Linked DNA regions of Homo sapiens: all the other regions are linked to region 3. Evidence: fine-mapped expression QTL. A gene starts in region 3. Each other region holds a variant in brackets. All regions are shown on one strand. Distances are from middle to middle. Region 1 overlaps ARMH3 (armadillo like helical domain containing 3). Region 2 overlaps SLF2 (SMC5/6 complex localization factor 2). Region 3 holds the start of KCNIP2 (potassium voltage-gated channel interacting protein 2).

What was found. PIP is the estimated chance that this variant, and not a neighbour inherited with it, causes the effect.
Region 1: its variant is the best candidate, but not a certain one, in a credible set for the expression of KCNIP2 in whole blood (INTERVAL, PIP 0.57).
Region 2: its variant is the best candidate, but not a certain one, in a credible set for the expression of KCNIP2 in skeletal muscle (FUSION, PIP 0.65).

What each region holds. Positions count from the first base shown.
Region 1 is chr10:101,862,805-101,865,567 of GRCh38, reverse strand. The region is part of intron 24 of ARMH3 (armadillo like helical domain containing 3); the gene reads left to right. The region is part of intron 2 of LOC101927445 (a long non-coding RNA gene); the gene reads right to left. Among named protein-coding and RNA genes, the nearest start is that of KCNIP2, 20 kb to the right of the region's middle. The variant T/G (reference allele first, on the strand shown) is at 1,492.
Region 2 is chr10:100,931,356-100,934,118 of GRCh38, reverse strand. All of the region lies in intron 9 of SLF2 (SMC5/6 complex localization factor 2), which reads right to left. Among named protein-coding and RNA genes, the nearest start is that of SLF2, 20 kb to the right of the region's middle. The variant A/GCACACA (reference allele first, on the strand shown) is at 1,399.
Region 3 is chr10:101,842,198-101,844,960 of GRCh38, reverse strand. It overlaps KCNIP2 (potassium voltage-gated channel interacting protein 2), which reads left to right and starts at 1,161. Exons shown (of 10, transcript NM_173191.3): 1 at 1,161-1,465. The coding sequence starts at 1,393. RefSeq lists a silencer at 939-1,188 and an enhancer at 1,144-1,649.

The DNA of each region.
Region 1 (2,763 bases), 21 kb before region 3:
GCAGTGAGCCAAGATCATGCCACTACCCTCTACCCTGGGCAACAGAGTGAGACTCTGTCTCAAAAAAGAAAAAAAAATTACGGTAGTACAGTAGGTACTACAGTTAATTTTATACAGTTATAATTTAATACTGCCTCTTTACGTTTGCTTACATTTCTCTCAGCTGCAAATGGTGCCATGTGTGGTGTTTGTGTGCATGAGTTTTGTAAATTTTAACTTTTTATAATAGACTTGTGTATATTTTATGGTAGTAAATGATAAAATACTCTCTATGTATATCTTACGTGTTCATTACATATTTAATGTTTTCTTACTCTTTTTGTTTGTTTGTTTGTTTTTGTTTTTTTTTTTTGAGACATAGTCTCACACTGTCGCCCAGGCTGGAGTGCAGTGGCGCAATCTCAGCTCACTGCAAGCTCTGCCTCCCGGGTTCATGCCATTCTCCTGCCTCAGTCTCTCGAGTAGCTGGGATTACAGGCGCCCACCACCATGCCTGGCTAATTTTTTGTATTTTTAGTAGAGACGGGGTTTCACCATGTTAGCCATGATGGTCTCGATCTTCTGACCTTGTGATCTGCCCGCCTCGGCCTCCCAAAGCTTTAATATAATTAAAAAAAAATTTTTTTTTTTGAGCTGCGTCAGGGCTTTTAATTGAGAGTTTGTAAAGTCCTGATTTTTTTAAATTTAAGTTCTAGGGTACATGTGCACAATGTGCAGGTTTGTTACATATGTATACATGTGCCATGTGGTGTGCTGCACCCATTAACTCGTCATTTACATTAGGTATTTCTCCTAATGCTATCCCTTCCCCCTCTCCCCAGCCTGCAACAGACCCCAGTGTGTGATGTTCCCCAACCTGTGTCCAAGTGTTCTCATTGTTCAATTCCCACCTATGAGTGAGAACATGCGGTGTTTGGTTTTCTGTCCTTGAGACAGTTTGCTCAGAATTATGGTTTCCAGCTTCATCCATGTCCCTACGAAGGACATGAACTCATCCTTTTTTATGGCTGCATAGGATTCCATAGTGTATATGTGCCACATTTTCTTAATCCAGTCTATCATTGATGGATATTTGGGTTGGTTCCAAATCTTTGCTATTGTGAATAATGCCGCAATAAACATACGTGTGCATGTGTCTTTATAGTAGCATGATTTATAATCCTTTGGGTATATACCCAGTAATGGGATGGCTGGGTCAAATGGTATTTCTTGTTCTAGATCCTTAGGGAATCGCCACACTGTCTTCCACAATGGTTGAACTAGTTTACAGTTCCACCAACAGTGTAAAAGTGTTCCTGTTTCTCCACATCCTCTCCAGCACCTGTTTCCTGACTTTTTAATGATCGCCATTCTAACTGGTATGAGATGGTATCTCATTGTGGTTTTGATTTGCATTTCTCTGATGGCCACTGATGATGAGCATTTTTTCATGTGTCTTCTTTTGAGAATTGTCTGGTTTTTGTGTGTGTGTGTGTGTGTGTGTGTGTGTTT[T/G]TTTTTTTTTTTTTTTGAGATGGAGTCTTGCTCTGTTGCCCAGGCTGGAGTGTAGTGGCACTATCTTGTCTCACTGCAGCCTCTGCCTACTGGGTTCAAGTGATTCTCCTGCCTCAGCCTCCTGGGCAGCTGGGACTACAGGCAAGTGTCACCACACCCAGCTAATTTTTGTATTTTTAGTAGAGACAGGGTTTCACCATATTGGCCAGGCCAGTCTCGAACTCTTGACCTTGTGATACAACCTCTTTGGCAGCCCAAAGTGCTGGGATTACAGGTGTGAGCCGCTGTGCCTGGCCTTAATTTTATTTTATTTTTTAAGAGATGGAGTCTCACTATGTTGCCCAGGCTGGTCTTGAACACCTGGGCTCAAGCGATCCTCTCACCTCGGCCTTCCAAAGTGCTGGGATTTACAGGCACGAGCTACCATGCACAACCAATTTTTTCAAAATTTCTAAGATACACAATTTGCGAGATTTTTCAAATTGTTCCAAATCTTCAAAAACCTTTCTAATATATATGTATATTTTTAAATTTGCATATAAGTGGACCCACACAGTTCAAACCCATATTGTTTAGGGTTACCTATTTGTTCTATTAGTTACTGAAAGTAGTATGGAAACCTTCAACTTGTAACTATATGTTTTTCTGTTTCTTCTTTAGCCTATCGATTTTGTTTCATTCAAAGTTTTGAAACTGTTTTTAGATGCATGTATGTATGGGTTTGTTACGTCTTCATAATGAATAGACCTCTTTATCATTACAAAATTTTGCTCTATATTCCTGATACTATTTCTTGTTTTTAAGTTTCCTTTGTCAGATATTAATATAGCAATTCAACTTTCTTCTATCATTTTACTTTCAATCTGTGTCTTTATATTTTAGGTAGATTCTTGTTGCCCAGGCTGGAGTGCAGTGGCGTGATCTTGGCTCACCGCAACCTCCGCCTCCCGGATTCAAGCTATTCTCCTGCCTCAGCCTCCCGAGTAGCTGGGATTACAGGCATGCGCCACCATGCCAGGCTAATTTTGTAATTTTAGTAGAGACAGGGTTTCTCCATCTTGGTCAGGCTGGTCTCGAACTCCCGACCTCAGGTGATCCACCCGCCTCTGCCTCCCAAAGTGCTGGGATTACAGGCATGAGCCACCGCGCCTGGCTTAAGTGGATTTATTTTGGGCAACTTGTATAATTGGCTCTTGATTTTATGTCCAATCTGAAAGTCCCTGCCTTTTAATTGGAGTATTACATTGAACTTATTTATGAATATAACTGAGT
Region 2 (2,763 bases), 910 kb after region 3:
ATACTCTAGAAAACACTGACCAAAATGTAACAGCTCCAGAAATTAGGACTTGGGAGTTCAGCCTTCTTATTTTAATTAAAAAAATTTAAACTGTTCACTCAAACAGATTCTGACAGAAACTTCTTTTTAAAAATATTTTAGGCTGGGTGCAGTGGCTCACGCCTGTAGTCCCAGAACTTTGGGAGGCCGAGGTGGGTGGATCACTTAAGGCCAGGAGTTCGAGGCCAGCCTGACCAACATGGTAAAACCCCATCTCTACTAAAAATAGAAAAATTAGCCAGGTGTGGTGGCACAGGCCTGTAATCCCAGCTACTTGAGAGGCTGAGCAGGAGAATTGCTTGAACCTAGGAGGCGGAGGTTGTAGTGAGCAGAGATCACGCCACTGCACTCCAGCCTGGGTGACCAAGTGAGACTCTCTCTCAAAAATAAACAAACAAACAAATAAATAAATAAATTTTAATCTCCTTTCCATTTTACTTGAACTTTTCATAATCAAACCTGAATTCCTTTTGAAAATTGTTAAAAAAAAAAAGTACTAACCTTTTTCTGGTCTACTACATTTAGACACTCATGATAAAATCACAAAAATGCAAGGATTTTAATTACATTTTAACATTAAACTTACAAAATACTGGTTAGGAGTATAGCATTAAAATGAATTGACATAATTTCTAAAAACTACTTACAAGTTGGTAAAGCCTCCCACGATGAAAACGGACTTGGAATCAAAAAAGGAGAAATGAGACAGTGTCTTACACAGGGAAAGTGTTTAATGAATGATTAGTCTGGTTTTCAGAAAATAAATATGAAATGTATTAAAAAACTGCTTAAATGAAGGTATGCTTGTATGTCATAATTAGGGTTTGAATGGCTATAACAATGGGCCCACATCAACAAGAGGCAAATTAACATAGATAAATGCAAAGTCTTACTTGGAGGTTTAAGAAATGATATACACAATTAGAGAATAATGAAGCCCTGGCATAACAGTAAAGGAAATTTTTTGTTTGTTTTTTTGATATGGGGTCTTTCTCTGTTCCCCAGGCTGGAGTACAGTGGCATGATTAGTTTTGAACTATAATAAGTAGAAATTTGTAGGTTTCTTCAGATGGGCAAGAGTCTCACTGAAAACTGCTGGTAAGACAGACCTTATCTGGAGCATGTGTCCACGTATCTTTAGTGGAGGCAGTGAGGGAACACTTTAGGAGTGACATTGACAAGCTACTCCTTTACTTGGATCTTACCTTAACCGCAAGACCTTCAACTACTTTACACTTTAAAAAAGCAAACTTTCTCTCTCACCCCGGTACTCTCTGTATCTACCTTACCCTACGTTTTCTTCATAGCACTTATCATCTGACACAATACATTTACAAATGTGCGCGCGCGCGCGCGCGC[A/GCACACA]CACACACACACACACACACACACACACTTATTGTTTGTCTCCTCTACATTAGCATGTGGGCTTCATGAGATCAGAGACACTGATTTTTTCATTGCTGTTCTCTCCAGTGCCTGGCACAGCTGGCACTCAAAATGCCAACTATATAAAACAATGAACGAAAGTCTGTACTGGAATATCTCTCCAGTTCTCACCAAATACGAGATTTCTTGAAATGCTATCATAAAACCCAGAGTAGAAACTCCATGTTTTTCCCACTTTTCACTTTATATATAATAGCTGTAGTTCTCTGACACCATTGATACTTTTTTCCTTTTTGTTATAGGATTTCTGGGGCCAATACTCACATATTATAAAGGACTCTTTTATACTACGATTCCTTTTTCCTGAATGTATATTTTTCACACATTTAGGATTTTATTAAAGTGGAACACTCAGTAACCTGAGAATAATTTTTTTTTTTTTAAACAGATGTGGTCTTGCTATGTTGCCCAGGCTGATCTCAAACTCCTGGTCTCAAGTAATCCTCCTGCCTTGGTATCCCAAAGTGCTAGAATTACAGGCATGAGCCACTGCGAAGAATAACTTGTCATTCATAATCGTTCTCGTCTTTGAAAGAAGCATAATTCCAATCTAACTGAGTAGTTACTATAGTACTTGTTGATACAGAAGCTTTTATACTGGAAAAAGCCCCATCCATGCCCTCCCATATAAATGTCTTTTTTTTTTTTGAGACAGAGTCTCACTCTGTCCCCCAGGCTGCAGTACAATGGAGCAATCTTGGCTCACTGTAAACTCCACCTCCTGGGTTCAAGCAATTCTCCAGCCTCAGCCTCCTGAGTAGCTGGGATTACAAGTGCCCACCACCACACCTGGCTAATTTTTGTATTTTTAGTAGAGACAGGGTTTCACCATGTTGGCTAGGCTGATCTCCAGCTCCTGACCTCATGATCCACCTGCCTCGGCCTCCCAAAGTGCTGGGATTGCAGGCATGAGCCACCACTCCTGGCTGATACAAATGTCAAGAGTAAGAAACTTCTACATTTATCTGCATGAAGGTCCGAAGTATCTAGAGTAACACCAGAACTCCATACATAAGCATCAATGATACCACTGATATTTAAAAAGTTACCAATTGAGTTAACTTTCTGGAATTATCATATCTTAAATTTAAGATAATTATTTAAGTGGATTTAAGCGTTAAATATGAATGGGGAAAAGAAACACTTGGTTGGATTTGCATCCAAAAAAAAAACCATATATACGAATGGGGAAATATTAGCATACAATTAAAATTCTGAAAATGTATATAGGTACCACCATAAACATGAAAAAAGGTTAAAAAGAAATTTAGGTATGTAAGCATT
Region 3 (2,763 bases):
AATCAAGTGGTTGGAAATTAAAGCCAATTGAAGAGATTAAGTGTGCTTGAGTCACTTTAAAGTTTTTGGTCTTAACAGGTCACTCCTTTGGACCCACCAGACAAGGTCCCCTCATCCTCATAGCAACGGGTTGGGGGGCTTTTGGGTGTGGAGCCCAGGAAGCATCCTGAGGAAGGTCAGACCTGTGACGCTCAAAACACTCAGGATCCATTCCTGGGAGATGAGGCAGCCCAGCTTCCGTGCTAGCCCTGCCTTTGGAAAGGAGCTAATCTTAAGGAAGGGGTTTCATAACAAGGGCATTTCTTTCCTACTCTGTATCCTGACTTGGATCCCCAAACCTGTCAGTTGCTCCCCATATCTGCTGGAAAACAAGGAATCTAGGACAGGACAGGTGACAAAAGAGAAGGGCAGAAAAGTTGCTGCAGGGGAGGAACAAAAGAGCAAGGATGTCTTGAGAAACTGACCTGGTTCACTAGTTTTTTTATCTTCCTAGTCGGCCTATGGGGTTCATTAGATCAGTGAAGGAGGCACCCTGAGAGTGAATAGGTTCCAGAGACGGGGTCCTGGAGTGGGTGAGAGTTGGGGTCCTTCTGGAACTTGAGAGAAGATGAAACAGTAGTCCATTGGCCCACGATGAGCCTGCTAATATTAGAGGCTGGGTTGACTCTTCCTTTGCATCCCTAACCTGCTTTAAGCACGGTGGGGACTGTCTGGGACCACGAGAGACGCATACACGGGAGGAGGAACAACAGAGAAAATACAGGCTGACATGGAGACAAACGGAGCGGGGACTCAGATATGATACCCCAGGCTCTGCCTCAGCCAGAACTGTGTTGACGAAGGGGGACGGGGTGCCTGAGAATTGGGGGCGGGGTTTCCTCCTCTCAGTGGGGCTCTTCTGTCCCGCGCTCTCCTCCTCCCCCACCCCCCCCCCCCGCCAAGCCCCGTGACTTCTGCTTTAGGGGCAGATTGCTGGGGAGCTAGTCTCCTTCCCCGCACTTTGCAGTTCACCCTTTCACCGGGTGCCTCCCCCGGGCTGCAAAGGGTGGGGGGCGGGGGTAGGGGGAGCCAATCCCGGCAGCGCCAAAGAGGGGAGGAGGCGGTGACAGCCGCGGGGAGGGGGCGGGAGGAGAGAGGCAGCTCGGCTCGGCTCCGCGCTCAGCTCCGCTCTGCCTCCGGCTCTGCGCTCACCTGCTGCCTAGTGTTCCCTCTCCTGCTCCAGGACCTCCGGGTAGACCTCAGACCCCGGGCCCATTCCCAGACTCAGCCTCAGCCCGGACTTCCCCAGCCCCGACAGCACAGTAGGCCGCCAGGGGGCGCCGTGTGAGCGCCCTATCCCGGCCACCCGGCGCCCCCTCCCACGGCCCGGGCGGGAGCGGGGCGCCGGGGGCCATGCGGGGCCAGGGCCGCAAGGAGAGTTTGTCCGATTCCCGAGACCTGGACGGCTCCTACGACCAGCTCACGGGTGAGTCAGTGACGTGGGGGTCGCGGGAGGGAGGGTGGATTCCATTCCTCCAGACCCTTCCGCCTCTCCGACCCCGGCCTGGCCCGCACCCACACTCTGCCCCATTCCCAGGCACTCTTATGGCCGGTCTGGGCGGCAGGACACTGGGGGTTCAAAGCCTTGGGTCCCGCAGGGGTTGGGGAGGAACAGAAGAGGCAGGTGTGGAGAGGCAGCAGGTGTGGGCGTATGTGACACAGGGCTGAGAGGGTGTCTGGAGTGGGAGGTGTTACGTGCGTGAGCACCTGTCATTCTGTGTGTGTGTGTGTGTGTGCGCGCGCACCTCCCACAGCTGGTTGCCATGTGCCCTGGGCTTGGTGACAGCTAGGGTGAGTGTGATTGTATGTGGCAGTGCAATTGTATGGTCTCGTCAGATGTTTGAGTTTGCGTAGGACCCTGGTTGTACTGATGAAGTTGTTTTGACCATGTGTCTCTATGTGCAACGATGTGTTGTGAGTGTGTAATTCTGTATGAAGTGGTGTGTAACTACCAGAATGTGTCAGGGCTCTACTTTAGGGTGGCTTGTCTCTTTGTAAGCCTTCATGACCATAAGCCCTCTGGGCAAGAATTTGTTAAAGTAGGTTGTGTTGTGTTTTGTGGTTGTGAGATTAGTGTTCAGTGCTAGTTGTGTACTTTCATGTGGTGATGTCTGCAGCGGGGCTCTGTGAGTGTCTATGACGTGTCTCATCCCTGCTGCCTCTCTGGCTTCCTGGTACAGATAGGGGTCTTTAGTACACCCCACTCCTTCACCAATTTTTCCACAAATAGCCCAGGTGGACCCAAGGAGGGACTTTAGTGTTCAGCTGCCCAGTCTGGTTTCCAAGAGACCTTATGGCTCCAGCACCTGGCCCCTGTAGGGAGGCTTTAGTTAGTGCTGGGTCAGCCCTCTCTCCCCACACCAAATCATGTACTGAGATTATTCTTACAACTGAATCCTTCAACCCCCAACAAACCTTTCAGAACTTCACTCAAACCCCAGGAAAACACATCCTCTTCCTTCCCCTCCAGAGACAGAGCTAGAAGCTCTAGGCCTGGGAAGTGCCATGTGGTGTCCTGCATGTCCACCAAACCACTTGGCTGCCCGGGCATCCTCTCTTTCCCACATGGGGAGGTATGTGAGGCCAGTACATCTGTGCATGTGCATGTTCCTGGGTTTGGTAGGAAGAGCCATGTGTTTGTGTAGGTGACTGTGTCACCCTGGGTACATTTCCATGTATGTGTTTGTGTCTCTCATTGTGCAGCCTGCTCTAGAAAGCCAGCAG